Linked DNA regions of Homo sapiens: region 2 is linked to region 1. A link means that fine-mapping ties the variant in region 1 to the expression of a gene that starts in the linked region. Tissue or cell type: whole blood. Region 1 holds a variant in brackets; the other region holds the start of a gene. Each region is shown on its reference strand, or each on the opposite one.

Region 1 (8,528 bases):
GGTGGGAAACAGACTCAGAGAGGTTGTTTGACTAACTTATGGTCACACAGCTCATGGATCTTAGAGCTGAGTTATAAATCCAGCTCTCTTCCCTGATCCCTGTTTGTGACATGCATAGTTTGGCTTTCAGAGGAGAGTGTCATTCCTCTTTAAGGGATGATCGAGAGAGCTGCCCCAGGAGAGAGGAGGGACTTCCATGTGATTGTTGCATTAGCTCAGCTCTGAATGGTTTCTTCTGTTTAATAAACCTTGTTAATTTTACTACTGCTTGTTCTTGGCTCCACCACACAGCAGTGGTTTAGGCAATATGTTCAAAAAATGTGCTAATTACAGGCTGTAATTTTCTTCCATCCTAAAATAAATACTTAGCATTTTAGTACTTGGAGAGGGAAATAGTTTAGTGGAGCTAGAAGAGTCACGAAGCTTGGGGGCTGTTGGGAGGGGCTGAAGAACATGGAAGCAGAATGTGCAAGGATAGAAAAAAATAGAAGTTTTTGGAAGGCTGTGGTGTCTGGGGTCTATTTAGTGGGAGTGGTGTTATGTATGTGGGTGTGTGCAAGTTTGGGGGATACTTGGGGGATGCTGTGCAGAGAGAGGCAGAGGGAAGGGGGTGCTTGCTACCTGCTCACCAAACTCTGTTCCTTCTCTTCCGTGGTGCAATTCTGTCATTCAAGAAGTGTGTTTTGTTTTGTTTTGTTTTGTTTTGTTTTTTGAGCTGAGCATGGTAGCTTATGCCTGTAATCCCAACACTTTGGGAGGCTGAAGTAGGAAGATTGCTTGAGCTTGGAAGTTCAAGACCAGCTTGGGAAACACCAGGCTTTCAGCAAATGCTCCTTGAGTGTGTGAAGTACTGTATTGAGCAGCATAGAATTGGACACTGTTGACCATATCATTCTTTAGTTGATGAGATCTGGGCCCTCATAAGCCCTCATGTTTGGACAGTGCCTCCTGGTTTACAAAGAGCTTCCTTGAACATGATCTCAGTTCAGCATCACAATAACCCTCTGAGATGAAAAGGGGTAGGGAAAGAACAGGAAGGAACTAACAGGAACTGTGGGAGTTCAGAATGAGGGATTATTTCTAGCTGCAGGAGGGACCCATAGAAGTCTCCTGAGAAAGTGGCATTGAGATGGGCTTTTAAAGAAAGGTGAGAGAGCAGAGAACAGTATTCCAGGTGGAGGCCACATCGTAGGCAAAGTCACAGAGATGTGAAAGCGTGGGTGTGTCTATGGGACTAGGGGAGGTGATCAATGGGGCTGGAGTATAGGCTGCCTGCAGGACAGTGTGGGAGGCCAGACTGAAAACAACCACAGGGCTCAGAGAGCAGCATCATTTCATTAGGATCATCATCTTCATTCCCCTCTTTAAAAACACACTTCCAGACCACTTGCTCTATGCCAGGCACTTGGCTAGGTATGGGAGACACAAAAGATATCATGTACAGTTCCTGCCTTGAGGGCATTTACAACCCATCAAGGAGAACTGCCACACACACACCAACCTTAAACGAAATGCGTAGAAGTTACTTGGAAAGTTTGCACTTCCATTTAACGTGTGCATGTTCAGAAGAATGGAGGCCTGCAAGAGTTCCCTTTTCACATGTACTTGGAGCTTTCCCTTGAAGGGCCCTCTAATTAAGTCTTTGGGGAGGCAGTGCAGCACAGTGGTTGCAACCACAGTCTCTGGAGTCCGAAGGCCTGGGTTGAAATTTGGGCTGCAGCACTGACGACCTACAACTCCCTGGTGGAGTCTTTAGTTCTCTATCCTTGGTGATATGGTTTGGCTGTGTCCCCACCCAAATCTCATCTTGAATTATAATTCCCATAATTCCCTTGTGTTGTGGAGCGACCCAGTGGGAGATAATTGAATCATGGGGACGATTTCTCCCATACTGTTCTCATGGTAGTGAATAAGTCTCATGAAATCTGATGGTTTTATAAGCAGAAACCCCTTTCACTTGGCTCTCTCTCTTTGCCTGCTGCCATCCACATAAGACGTGACTTGCTCCTCCTTGCCTTCTGTCATGATTGTGAGGCCTCCCCAGCCATGTGGACCTGTAAGTCCATTAAACCTGTTTTTCTTCCCAGTCTGGGGTACGTCTTTATCAGCAGTGTGAAAACAGACTAATACACTTGGTTACCTTGTCTATAAAATAACGATCCAAAGGCAACCTGGTTGATTGGGTTGTCATATCAGCTAAGACAATGCAGAAAAATAGTACCATGCATGATACCCAATTAACCCAATAGCAAATAAGTAAGCACGATGCTGCTGGCTGTGGCTTGCATACTGTAGCTGAGCCGAAGTAGAGTCTCTGAGCAAGGAGGGCACCATGGAACATGTTCTTCTGGGAGTCCCGCTCAGAAAGCAAAGCTGGGTGAGTGTGCAAGGTCGTTGTGGTGCTGCCAAGTCATTGTGGAGCCTCGCTAGCATATCTTGGCTTAAAGGAGTAGGGATTTCTTAATAAATCAGGTGTTTCTTGTAGACACTCCCCACCCCCAGCAGTGCTGGAATGTGCAGAGGATGTTTTGAATGTGTCACCACTGATAGTTACATGCCGTCCTGTTGCAGTGCGTTTCCAGGAGCTAAACCAAGGCCAGGGTCAGGGAGCCCAGCTTTGTGGCAGCGGATGATACATTCCTCTGAAATACACCAACTCCTTGAGAGCTTCCTTCAATTATACTGCCCCGCGTGAGTTTGCACACCCTCACACACAATTGGCTTTCCTCTCTTAGGAGTTTGGGATATTTCAAGGCTTGCTAATCAGCTGTGTTTATTAGATAGCCTTTGTTTTCCCCTTCTAAGACAGGAAGCTCATTAGAAACAAGCACAAACTATCAACTTTCAACCCAGAGTTGAAAATGTTCCCTGAGAATTGGGGATATTTTTCAAGGGAGTCATATTCAGAGGCACAGCCCAACTCACGGTAGCTAAGCTGACAAGTAGGCTCTAGGTAATCCACATTCCAAGGATTTTGAGGTTCCCATGAGATGAATGCTTTCCCTCCATGATTATACCTTGCAGCTAGAAATATAAGGAAAAGCTGGGGCAAACTATAATACAGCAGGTAGTGACAATGGCCCTGGAGCCAGATGAAATGGGCTCATGTTCTGGCTTAGCCATTTACTAATTATGTGACCTTGGGCAAGTCACTGACCTTCAAATTCCTCATCCTTAAATAGGGGTAGGCCGGGAGGGTGACTCACGTCTGTAATCTCAGCACTTTGGGATCCTGAGGTGGGTGGATTGCTTGAGCACAGAAGTTAGAGACCAGCCTGGGCAACATAATGAGACCCCGTCTCTA[T/C]AAAAAATTTTTTTAAAATCAGCTGGGTGTGTGATGGTGTGCACCTGTGGTCCCAGCTACTTAGGGGTCTGAGTCAGGAGGATTGCTTGAGCCTGGGAGTTTGAGACTGCTATGAACTATGATTGAGCCACTATACTTCAGCCTGGGTGACAGAGTGAGACCCTGTCTGAAAAAAAAACAAGGGTGGTACTACCCACTTCATAGGATTATTGTGAGCTTTACGTGAAGGCCTTACGTGATTGTTAGTTATTATTATTTATAGTAGCTTTCATTTATTCATTCATTCCTTTACTCAACTGATACTGATTTGGTACTTTCTATGTGCCAGGTGTTGTGTTTGGTGTAGGAACTATGTAATAAAATGAGTTCTTGTCCCTGCTCTTGAAGAGGTCACCACTCAATGAGAGAGACAACATGTACACAGGTTTTATGAAGCAGTGTGAACAATGCATGCAACAGGCTTTGGGAGCACAGTGGAGGGACACCTAGCTCTAGTTGATGGTGGTTGTGGTAGTGATAGCCCAAGTGTACCACGATGGAAGTAATAATGATGGTGATGATGAGGATGTTGGTCATGCTGGTAATGGTTTGCTTGTAAGGATGGTAGTAATGATGGGGACTATGAGATGGTGGTGATGGTTGTGGTAGTAATGATTCCAGCATGATGTCATAATGATGACAGAGACATTTAGATTGGTGATAGTGGTGGCCATGATGGTGGTGACAGTGGTGATGGTTTACCATGAGGATGGTAGTGAAGATGGCATTGCTGCTGATAGTGGTGATGGTGGCCATACAATGGTAATCAAGATGTCAGTAACAGGATTGTAGTCAAGATGGTAGTAAACAATACAGTGGTGATGGTGATGGTGAGGGTGGCAATGGTGGTATTAATGTTTTGAGAAAGGATGGTACTAGAGATGGTACAGATGATGGTGACAGTGTGATGGTGGCAGTGGTAGCAATGACTGTGATAGGATAGCAGTAATGGTGTAATGGCAGTGATCATGGTGAGAGCAGGTAGAAGTGGCAGTGATTTGCCCTGAGGATGCTAGTAAAGATGGTAGTGATGACCATGTGGAGGTGGTGGTGGTGGCATGATGTGAGAAGACAGCTGTTCTCTTCCTACCCTTCCCAAGATTATGATTAAGAAAATCCCAAACATGATATTATTTCATCTGTAAATGTAAACTATATCTTTAAATTTAAATTTTCTAACTTTGTTGCTAGTGTGTAGACATGAAAATGGTTTTTGAAAATTGACATAAGATCTAGTAACCTTGTAAATCTCTCATCATTTATACTGATTTGTCTGCAGATTCAATGGGGTCTTCTACATAGACAATCATATCATCAGCTAACAGAGTTTTGTTTCTTTCTTTTTAATACTTATGCCTTTTATTTATTTTTCCTGGAGGATTATACGATGTCTTCCAGTTTAGTGTGAAAAAGAGGTAGTGAGAATGGTATCTGTCTTTTTCCTGATTCTAATTGTAATAATTCTAACATTTTACAAATATCAAATATTAAAATAATGCTTATTACAGGTTTAATAGGTATCCTATATGAGGTTATGAAACTTTGTTCTGTTGTTATCCTGGTTTGCTAAGAGATTTTTTTGATTGTTGTTTAATTATGAATATTTGTTGAATTTTATCAAAGGCTTTTTCTGTTTGTACTGAAAAGATTATATGGTGCTTTGGGCACTTCCCATGTATGACTTCAGAGTTGCGCAGCCTTAATTTTTTTCTTATTTCAGCCACTGATGCAGTGACCAATTTTGTGTGAGCACTTATCAGTTTCACACAGGTGCACCCTGACAGCAATTAACCTTTGGGTCTCACTGCATGCCTCTTCCTGTCTCTGTTGATGCGCAGTGGGAAACAGTATGAGAACCATTTGGCACTCACCAAAATTTATTCATTGAGAAAAAGGATTTGTCATTTATCTGTATAGACAGTGCTGAAATGCATTTTACGTGGCCATTCATGCAGTCCCATGGGCTTGCGTCACTCATGCAGCAGCGGCTTGATAATTTGTCTTGGTGTTAGTTTTCTTTCCTCTCTGACTCTCCTTTCTTCTTACCGCTCACTCTTGCTCTCTGGCTTTCATGCCTCAGAAAAGTACTCACACTTTATCCTTTGTTTCTGGGGAATTCAGAATATAATTTTTTTTCTCTTTTAGTCTATTTATGTGTTGAATTACATTTATAAAGTTTCTGATGTTAAATTACCCATGCATTTCCTTGGATAGTTCAGCCTGGTCACAAAGTTATAGTTAAAAAAATTTTTTTATTATACTATTTGGTTTGGAAATTTCACATCTGTGTTCATGAGTAAGACTGATGTATAATTTTTCTTTTTTAAACCTTCTTTGTCTGTTTTTGGTGTCAGTATTATATTAGCCTCACAAAATAAGTTGTAGAATGTTCTTTCTTTTCAATTACCTGGAAAAGATATTTGAATTTGAATATTTGAATGGTTTGTTCCTTGAAAGTTTGTGAAATGTATTCTATGAAATAGTTTGGGCTGGCTATTTTTCAGAAGGATTTATATTGCTGATTAAATTCCCTCAACAGTTATAAGATTATACAGGGTTTTGATTTCTCCTTGAGTCAGTTTTGGTTATTTAGCTTTCCTAGGAATTTATATATTTTAATCTATACGTCAAATTTATTAACATTAAATTTAAATGTATTAATATTAAATATTCACTTATTTTCAGTCTGTATGATAGTTATATTCCTCTTTTATTCCTAATATTTCTTACTTATATGTTTGTTTGTTTGCTTTTGATCAGGCTCACTACTGGTTTATCAGTGTCTTTAGTCTTCTCAGAGAACAAACTTCCAGCTTTGTTGACCTTTTTCCCTATGTTTTTGTTTTATATTATGTTGGTATTATTATTCTATTCTTTTAATAACTTTTTTAGTTGGTTGCTCAGCTCATTAATTTTAAGCCTTTCTTCTTTCCTAATATAAACATTTCAGGGTATAAACCTGTTTTGAAGTATTATTTTCATTGCACCCTGTGAGTATTAATATATAGTATTATTGTTACAATTGAGTTCTATGTACTTTTGAATTTCCGTTTTGGCTTCTCTTTTCCCCATGAGTGATTTATAAGTTTATTTTTATAATTCCAAGTGTGTTTAAATTTTTTATTGATGTCTAACTTAATTGCATTGTAATTAAAAAATATCTACTATAGGATACTCATTTTTAAAAATTCATTGAGACTTTAAGTACTGCATGGCAATTTTAAAGTAAATGTTTTATGTTTTATGTGTGTTTGAGACACACATCTTCTAATTATTGGAAGTAGGATTCTAAATATGTCTTTAAATCAAGCTTGTCAATGGATTGTTAGGATTTTCTGCATTTTTTGTTTTTTCATTTGCTTGATCAATCAATCATTGAGATGATGGTTTTGCTGATTTTCTCCCCATAGTTCTATTAATTTTTGATCTATATAATTTGAGATTATTTTAGTAAATATGTGCATGTTTAGTATTGTTATATTAAAATGGTTAAACTTTGTAGCAGTCTGCACTTCTCTATCATTGTACTTACACAGTCTATTGTAATTACCTAATTATAAGTTCACATCTCCCACAGACTATAATTTCTGGGAGTTCATGCAACAAATCTGAATTGTTCAGCTAGCACAGTGCTCAATTAATAATTGTTAAATGAATGGATGCGTGAATGAATTGTCCTTTACCTTTCTGATATGGCAAATGATTAACACTGGATTATATATAATGGAATCTCTTGTTTTGTGCCTAAATATATGTAGGAGTGTCAGATTTGCAATGCATATGAAGCTAGATCTCAAACATCCATATCTTGGTGTAGAAGGCCTCTTCATTTTACAAAGAGCTCATCTGCTGAGGCATTTCTTGTTACAGAATTTTGATGGTGACTGTGTTTCCACTTGGTTGACAATCTTTCTTCCTACCCTTCTTTTTTTTTTTTTTTTTGAGATTTCCATTTGGAGAAAACAGAAAGTCAGCAGATTCTTTTTCTCCCTTGAGTTAATTCAAAGCGCTGATGAAGGAAAAGAGGGAGAGTGAATCTATAAAGGACAATGGAAAAGTCCCCTTTCCATATTTTGTCTGGAGGATCTGAGATTAGATTGGGAGTTTCTGTAGCCTTGGTATGAAAGAATACAAAGGACTTTAGCTCTAAAAGTATTTAAAGCCATTTTTGTCACCAACAGGATAGGCCAAATGAAAGCTCCTTCCTCCCTTGGTCCCAGGTGTAGATTTGGGGAAGTGGGCAGCTATTTCAAATCTATTACCAAAACGCTTTGAGTGAGCACCTCCTCTGCCCCAGGTTTTATGCTAAACACCATGGTTGCAAAGAGGCATAAGACTCTTCAAGGAACTGAAGCTCTTTGGGTGGGGGAAAGGGTAACAGGTTTTGTACAGTTATTAGCAAGTTCAGTGACCTCACAAACCTGCCCTGTGAGTGGCATCTTAGATACTCTGGGCTACAAGAGCCTGAGCAGATTCAACAACAACAATTTTTGTGTGCATGTGGCATGAATCATTACAAACAACTTTATATTCATTATATTTTTTGTTCTTCACAACACCTCCTAGGAGCTGACTTTTATAAATTTTACTTTATTATTATTTTTTTGAGATGGAGTCTTGCTCTGATGCCCAGGCTGGAGTGCAGTGGTGTGATCTCAGCTCAGTGCAACCTCCACCTCCTGGGTTCAAGTGATTCTCCTGCCTCAGCCTCCCAAGTAGCTGGGATTATAGGAACCTGCCACCATGCCCTGCTAATTTTTCTATTTTTAGTAGAGATGGAGTTTTGCCATGTTGACCAGGCTGGTCTCAAACTCCTGACCTCAAGTGACCCTCCCACCTTGGCCTCCCAAAGGATTATAGGTGTGAGCCACTGTGCCCAGCCTGTAAATTTTATTTTTAATTGACAAATAATTATAAGTACTATATATTTATGGGATATGATGTGATGTTTTGATATATGTTTATATTATGAAATGACTAAATCAAGCTAATTAACAATTTCATCACCTCACATATCTTTTTTTGGTGAAAACATCTAAAATCTACTATTTTAGTAATTTTGAAATATACAGTACATTATTATTTATTATAATCACCATTCTGTGCAAAAGATCCTGAAAGCTTATTCCTCCTGTCTAACTGAAATTCTGTGTCTTTTGACCAACATATCCCCTTTCTCCATTCG
Region 2 (8,000 bases), not on the chromosome of region 1:
TGAATAAATAGTAGCATATTCCTTCAGTGGTTTATTATTGCATAACCAGTTAACCCAAAATTTGGCAGCTTTAAAACATTTATTATCTGTCATAGTGCATTTAGGCTGCTCTAACAAAATGCCATAAGGTGGGCAGCTTACAAAAGAAATTTATTTCTCACAGTTCTGGGGGATGGGAAGTCCAAGATCAAAGTGCTAGTAGATTCTGTCTGGTGAGGGCTAGTATTTTGGTTCATAAACCGTTCCTTCTTGCTGTGTCCTCACAGGATGGAAGGAGCAAGGGGTCTCTCTTATGCATCCTTTTTTTTTTTTCTTTTGGAGATTGAGTTTCACTCTTGTCGCCCAGGCTGGAGTGCAGTGACACAATCTCTGCTCACTGAAACCTCTGCCTCCCGGGTTCAAGCGATTCTCCTGCCTCAGCCTCCTGAGTAGCTGGGATTACAGGTGCCTGTCATCACGCCTGGCTAATTTTTGTATTATTAGTAGAGATGGGGTTTCACTATGTTGGCCAAGCTGGTCTTGAACTCCTGACCTCAGGTGATCTACCCGCCACAGCCTCCCAAAGTGCTGGGATTACAGGCATGAGCCACCGTGCCCGGCCCTCTTATACATCTTTTGTGTATTTACTTGTAGACAAAGTCTTGCTCTTTTGCACAGGCTAAAGTGCAGTGGAATGAGCATAGCTCACTGTTTCAAACTCCTGAGCTCAAGTGATCCTCCAGCCTCCACCTCCTGAGTAGCTGGGGCTACAGGCACATGGCACCACACCCAGCTTTAAAAAAAATTTTTTTTAGAGACGGGGGTCTTGCTATGTTGCCCAGGCTGGTCTCAAACTCTTAGCCTCAAACAATTCTCCTGCCTCTTCCTCCCAAAGTGTTGGGATTACAGGCATGAGCCACTGCAGCTGGCCTTATATCCTTTATAAGGGTACTAGTCACATTCATGAGGGCTCTGACCCCATGACCAGATCACTTCCCAAAGGCCCCATCTCCTGATATCATCACTGTGTTAGGCTGTTCTCACATTGCTATAAAGGAATATCTGAGACCGGGTAATTTGTGAAGAAAAAAGGCTTAATTGGCTAAGGGTTCTGCAGGCTCTACAGGAAGCAGGGTGCTGGCATCTGCTTGGTTTGTGGGGAGGCCTCAGGAAACTTACAATCATGGCGGAAAGCAAAAGGAGAGCAGGCATGTCACATGACCAAAGCAGGAGCAAGAGGTGACAGGAGGTGCCACACACTTTAAATGACTAGATCTCACGAGAACTCACTCATCACAGGAACAGCACAAACGGGATGGCGCTAAACCATTCATGAGAAATCTGTCCCCATGACCCAGTCACCTCCCACCAGGCTCCAGCTCCAACACTGGAGATTACATTTCAACATGAGATTTGGGCAGGACATCCAAACCCTATCAATCACCTTCTGGGGTAGAATTTAAATATATGAATTTGGATGTGAGGACACAAATATTCAGACCATAGCATTATCTTATGTCATTTCAGTTTAGTATCTTACATGAGGTTGCAGTCAACCTATCAGCTGGGGCTGCAGTCATTTCTGAGTTTGAATGAGGATGGAGCATCCCCTTCCAGGATGACTTACTCATGTAGTTGTTGGAAAGAGGCTGTTTTTCCCTAGCTGTTGGTCTCAGTTCTTTGCTATATGGGCTTCTCCATGGAGCTGCTCACAACAAGGCAGCTGGTTTCCCCAGAGCAAGTGGTTTGTGAACCCCCAATATCTGAGACAGGTCTCAGTTCATTTAGAAAGTTTATTTTGCCGAGGTTGAGGATGTGTGCCCGTGACACAGCCTCAGGAGGTCCTGATGACATGTGTCCAAGGTGGTCAGAGCACAGCTTGGTTTTATACATTTTAGGGAGACATGAGACATCGATCAACATATCTAAGATGAACGATGGATTGGTCCGGAAAGGTGAGACAACTCAAAGCAAAGGCAGGACAACTTGAAGCGGGGAGGGGGCTTCCAGGTCTTGGGTAGATGAGAGAAAAATGGTTGCATTCTATTGAGTTTCTTTTTTTCTTTCTTTCTTTTAAAATTTTATTTATTTATTTATTTATTTATTTTGAGATGGAGTCTCACCCTGTCGCCCAGGCTGGAGAGCAGTGGCGTGATCTCGGCTCACTGCAACCTGCGCCTCCCAGGTCCAAGCAATTCTTCTGCCTCAGTCTCCCAAGTAGCTGGGATTACAGGTGTGTACGACCACAACCGGCTAATTTTTGTATTTTTAAAAGAGGGTTTCACCATGTTGGCCAGGCTGGTCTTGTACTCGTGATCTCAAATGATCCACCCACCTCAGCCTCCCAAAGTGCTGGGATTACAGGCGTAAGCCACCGCGCCCAGACATTTTGAGTCTCTGATTAGCCTCTCCAAAGGTGGCAATCAGATACGCATTTATCTCAGTGAGCGGAGAAGTGACTGTGAATAGAATGTGAGGCAGGTTTGCCCTAAGCAGTTTCCAACTTGACTTTTCTTTTAGCTTAGTAATTGTAGGACCCCAAGATTTATCTTCCTTTCGCAGGTTGGAAGGAAAGAGATGCCACACTACCTTTCATGAACTAATGTCCAAATCATACATCATCACTTCTGTGTTTTTCAGTTTATTATGAGCAAATGAAGTCACTAAGTCCAGTACATACTCGACAAGAGGGAATACACAAGAGTGAGAATACCAGGAGTAAGAAATCACTGGGAGTCATCTTGAAGGCTGGCTAGCAATCACAGTTTGCCCCCTGACTACCAATTCTTCATGCCATTTTAACGTGCTAACCACACTCCCCTCTATCCAAGGTCCCCAAAAGTTACATTTTTTTAAATCTCATGTAGTTTTAGGTATTACTATCCTATTGTCACATCAGCTTTAAGTCCAGAATTTTGTCTTCTCAATAAGATCAGATGTAGATGAGGCTTTCTGAGCTTAGTTCCTTAAATTCAGCTCCTAGAGTACAATTCTTCTTGATCTGTAGACTTTTGAAACTAAGGAGACAAGTTCTCTGCCCCCATGCCTGGAATATACAGTTGTGGGGCTGGCACAGGATAATCACTACAGACCTGTTCTGCTCCACTACGACTAGATTAGCCACTGCCACTCCTGTTCAAAAAGGGGGAAATTGGAAGTACAAACAAGTTGCCAGCCCACAGTAACTCTGCCATCCAGTCTCAAGGTCTAGGACTCCATGACTCCCAGTTCCACCATCTGGGCTCCTGGTTTCATGCCCTGAGTTATACTTCCTTTTTTGTGAAATGTGGCATGTGTTTGCCAATGAGTCTTTTTCTCAGTCTGATTCCTGCTTGTACAAGTTTGGGGAGAGGGGATCCAAAGGCCTGTTCCTTTCAGTCCAATCTGCAATGTTTGTGTCAATATAATTATCTTTAAAAAACTTTATAGGTCTCCTGTGAATCTCATCGGGGTTCACTCCGTTAAACAAAAGTGCTACCTACAAATCCCTTTGAGATAAGTCCATCTCTATCTTGGGCTTCTGCTAATACTGACGAACAAGCCTTAAGCCTTCTGGAGGCCTTGTGGTTTGACTGATGGACTCTGTGAGCCACACCATTAATCTCTTTAAGGAGCTGTTAGTCTAACTGAATGGTATTCTCAGGCACCGTCTTTGCTTTTTTTTTTGAGATTTTAAAGGATTTAACCGTCACATCTCAACTTCACCTTTGTTTTTTTCTGGCAGTACCCTGGATTTGATATTTGCTTGGAAACTATTACTATTTCTTAGTTTTACGCCATTTGCAATCAGGCGAAGCTGAGGACTTTAAAAATCATCCAAAGTCGTCAAGGTCCATCCCTTTTGTGTTTCGTCTTGCTTATCTCATTTATTTTACTATAAACAGCAAAAAGAAATGAAGGACAGGAGGGAGACGTTCATGGGTGCTGGACATGTCCTACCTGTTGGTCTGGATAGAAGATGCATGGTTGTATGGATGTGTACAAAGTCATCAATGTGCACACTTAAAATGTATGCACTGTATTGTATTCCTGCTATACCTTCGCTTAAAAAAGAAAAAAAAGGTTGAATGTGAGTTCGGGCGTGAGAAAACAGCAGCGCGCATGCGTGAGCGTGAGCGCGCATGCGTGAGCGTGAGCGCGCTGGGAGGCCGGAAACAAAGGTGGATGCGCGTGAACAGACGCCCTCGCAGGCCGCCGGAAGCAAAGGCGTGAGCGCGCGTGCGTGCGTGTGCGGGTGCGTGAGCGTGAGCGCGCGGAGGCCGGAAGCGAGCGCTGCGCAGTCGGGTGGTCGCGGGCCATGGAGGGTAGCTTTTCGGATGGCGGAGCGCTGCCGGAGGGGCTCGCGGAAGAGGCCGAGCCGCAGGGCGCCGCCTGGAGCGGGGACAGTGGCACTGTTTCCCAGAGCCACAGCAGCGCCTCGGGGCCGTGGGAGGACGAGGGCGCGGAGGACGGCGCGCCGGGCCGCGACCTGCCGCTGCTTCGCCGCGCCGCTGCGGGCTACGCCGCCTGCCTGCTGCCCGGGGCCGGGGCGCGGCCCGAGGTCGAGGCCCTGGACGCGAGCCTAGAGGACCTGCTTACCAGAGTGGACGAGTTCGTGGGCATGCTGGACATGCTTCGCGGCGACTCGTCCCACGTCGTCAGCGAGGGCGTGCCGCGCATCCACGCGAAGGCCGCCGAGATGCGGCGCATCTACAGCAGGATCGACCGGCTGGAGGCCTTCGTGAGGATGGTGGGGGGCCGCGTGGCCAGGATGGAGGAGCAGGTCACCAAGGCCGAGGCCGAGCTGGGCACCTTCCCCAGGGCGTTCAAGAAGCTCCTGCACACGATGAACGTGCCCTCGCTCTTTAGCAAGTCTGCTCCCTCGAGGCCACAGCAAGCCGGCTACGAAGCCCCCGTCCTGTTTCGGACCGAAGACTACTTCCCTTGTTGCAGTGAAAGGCCTCAGCTCTGACGGCCTGACCACTGCGGCAAGAGGACCCCAGCTGGGGTGCTTACCTCCAGTATGAAGTGAATTGCAAATCCTGCTTATGGACATATATGATGTTGGAGTGTGGGATTTTAAAGTTTACTTTCTACAAACTCTCCGTAGTATATTCATGATTCAGTGTAGAATGTATAGACTTTATGTCTTCCAAGTTTAAAAAAAGAGACAGGGTCTTGGTATGTTGCCCAGACTGTTCGGAAACTCCTGGGCTCAAGTGATCCTTCCACCTCAGCCTCCCCAGTAGCTGGGACTACGGGGTCGCCACTGCACCCAGCCTGTGTCTTCCAGCTCTAATCAGAAAGCTGCTTGTCGAGGGCATGGGGAATCAAACTGAATGAACTTTTCTCTGCACTGTGGCAAAACTGTTATTTTTATGGATTTTACTAAATGGCGTTACCTTTTCAAGATTTATATGTTTGTATAATCATAAGAAAATTGAGCCATTAAAGCCTTGTTATTCAATCCTAATAGTCAGTTTTCTAGAACCTACTTTTAGGGTAAATGGTACATTATTTAATATTATATTAAACCTCCTATAGCGTGGATTGTAGACCAAAGGAAATGGTACAATTTCTGAGAATATATGTTGATTTTTTGTGACTAATTCCAAAGTTGTATTTGAAAGTATGACCTCACAGTCTTCATTTGTCCATAGCAAACATATGTGTGTGTGTGTGTATATATATATGTGGGTTGCCAATGTTTGGTTTATAATTTAAATGTTAATAGAAATTTTGAGTTTTATTGGAAATGATTTCCTTCTGAAAAGAGCTTTACGTATTTCCTTGTGTGTGTTTGAAATAGACGTACTGCTCATGTGCTTTTTTAGTAGTGGGATAAAGAAAAGGGGCTTGAGTATACCTCCTTTAGAGAGCTAATGTGAAAAGCTGTAGCTTCTATTTCAGAGCATGGTATATTTCTTTTCTTTTTTTTTTTTTTTTTTTTTTTTGAGACGGAGTCATGCTCTGTCGCCCAGGCTGGAGTGCAGTGGCGCAATCTCGGCCCACTGCAAGCTCCGCCTCCCGCGTTCACGCCATTCTCCTGCCTCAGCCTCCTGAGTAGCTGGGACTACAGGCGCCTGCCACCATGCCCGGCTAATTTTTTTTGTATTTTGTATTTTTTTTTAGTAGAGACGGGTTTTCACTGTGTTAGCCAGGATGGTCTCGATCCCCTGACCTCGTGATCCACCTGCCTCGGCCTCCCAAAGTGCTGAGATTACAGGCGTGAGCCACCGCGCCCGTCCAGAGCATGGTATATTTCTTTCCTCTCGAAATGGATAGTTAAATTATTTGTGTGAGTGAATGGTATTAGGATTTTCCTGCGGATACAGTAGACTTTTATTGAGATTCAAATCTATTTTATAAGGTGGCCCTCCTAAATAGTAGATGCTAAAAAAGCATACAGCTTAGGTTGCTTTTGTGTCATTTGCAGTGTCATCAAAGATCTTTGAGGTTCATAGAGTAGCTGTATTTTCATTTAGCTGTGTGTTGTGAAGAATCTGATCATGTAATCTTGCACCTAGCTTTCGTGGACCTTCATTGTCACATATTTACGTTTTTTATTCAGGTGGTTCATTGACGACAAATTAAGGAACTCTGAATGTAGAAGCTGAAAGAACAAGTAACCTACATTTAATATTCAGCAACTGCTGGTACCCCTATAAGTAATTCATGTGTTTCGATGACATAGTCACTGAATATGAAAATATCCTTACATAACAAAACATTGCTAAAAGATTTTTCACTTAAAGTTAACATTCAAAAGCAGTAATTAGGGGCCGGGCGCGGTAGTTCACAAGCACTTTGAGAGGCTGAGGCAGGCGGATCACAAGGTCAGGAGATCGAGACCATCCTGGCTAACATGGTGAAACCCTGTCTACTAAAAATACAAAAAAAAAAAAAAAAAATTAGCCAGGCATGGTGGTGGGCGCCTGTGGTCCCAGCTACTCAGGAGGCTGTGGCGGGAAAATGGTGTGAACCCGGGAGTCGGAGCGGAGATGACGCCACTGCACTCCAGCCGGGGCGACAGAGCAAGACTCTGTCTGAAAAAAAAGAAAAAAGAACTAATATCCACCTATCCACCTTGGCACTCCCACAATGCATATTCCCAGTGCTCTGTCCATCCCCACTGCTACCCAACCCATCCAAGCCACTGGCATCTCTCCTGGGCCACTCAACAGCCTCTTAAGTGGTCTCCTGCTTCCCCTTCCCCGCTCCAAGCCACTCCCGCATGTAACACATCAGCCAAAGGGGTCTTTAAACAACATAAATCAGACATATTGGGCTTTGCCTAAAGCTCTCATTAGCTTCTCTTCATATTAGAATAAAGCCCAATTTCTGTTCTCTGGCTTGAGGTGGCTCCTGCCCCCTTGCTCACTCCCCTGCAGCCTTCCCTTGACCTCGAAAGATGCCCCATAGCATCTTTCATATGAGGATATGGAAAGGGGACATATGAACTGTCCCCTTCATAGCGCTTGTTACAGTTTGTGAAATGTGTTTGTGTCATTATCTGATGACTGTCTGCCTTACTCACCTGGAGTAACAAGTGGATGTTAGCTGCATCCACTTGGCTGCATGCTCAGCAAGCAGGTAGCACATCCCTGGTACACTCACATATCTGTGCAATAAGCGATTGTCAGAGTGACTGAGTGAATGAACGACTACACAAAATGTAGGCACTCCATAAGGAATGCGAGACAGAAAGGCAGACAGGAGAATTCAGTCAGACTAAGGGCTGGCTCAGAAATCAAGCACCATGGGAAGACTAGGACACAAAGAAAAACAAGATGTGATTCTTTCCCAAGAGCTGGGCAGGCCAGTGGGTGAGAAAGTCAGACGCCCAATCCAGTTGAGTCCAACCTAAGGTTCAGTCAAACACCACACAGACATTCCCGTGGGCTCCAATGGGGCTTTGTTCCTAATCGTGCCCTGGGATGTTGATACAGAACTTACAAAACTATCCTTCTAAGAAGACTCCTTTTATGTGCTGAGAAGTTATCCAGATTCAGGCACAGTGGCTCATGCCTGTATTCCCAGGG

Evidence for each region.
Region 2: BLOC1S4 starts here. The variant in region 1 is fine-mapped to the expression of BLOC1S4 in whole blood (TOPMed, PIP 0.99).

Annotation. Positions count from the first base shown.
Region 1 is chr12:105,482,932-105,491,459 of GRCh38, forward strand. It overlaps LOC105369958 (a long non-coding RNA gene), which reads left to right and starts at 6,771. Exons shown (of 6, transcript XR_007063438.1): 1 at 6,771-8,528. The variant T/C (reference allele first, on the strand shown) is at 3,305.
Region 2 is chr4:6,711,934-6,719,933 of GRCh38, forward strand. It overlaps BLOC1S4 (biogenesis of lysosomal organelles complex 1 subunit 4), which reads left to right and starts at 4,241. Exons shown (of 1, transcript NM_018366.3): 1 at 4,241-5,731. The coding sequence starts at 4,277. The coding sequence ends at 4,930. LOC105378240 (a long non-coding RNA gene) reads left to right here. Exons shown (of 3, transcript XR_001741568.3): 2 at 1,878-1,934; 3 at 2,091-2,212. RefSeq lists enhancers at 3,961-4,160, 4,643-5,282 and a silencer at 4,441-4,490.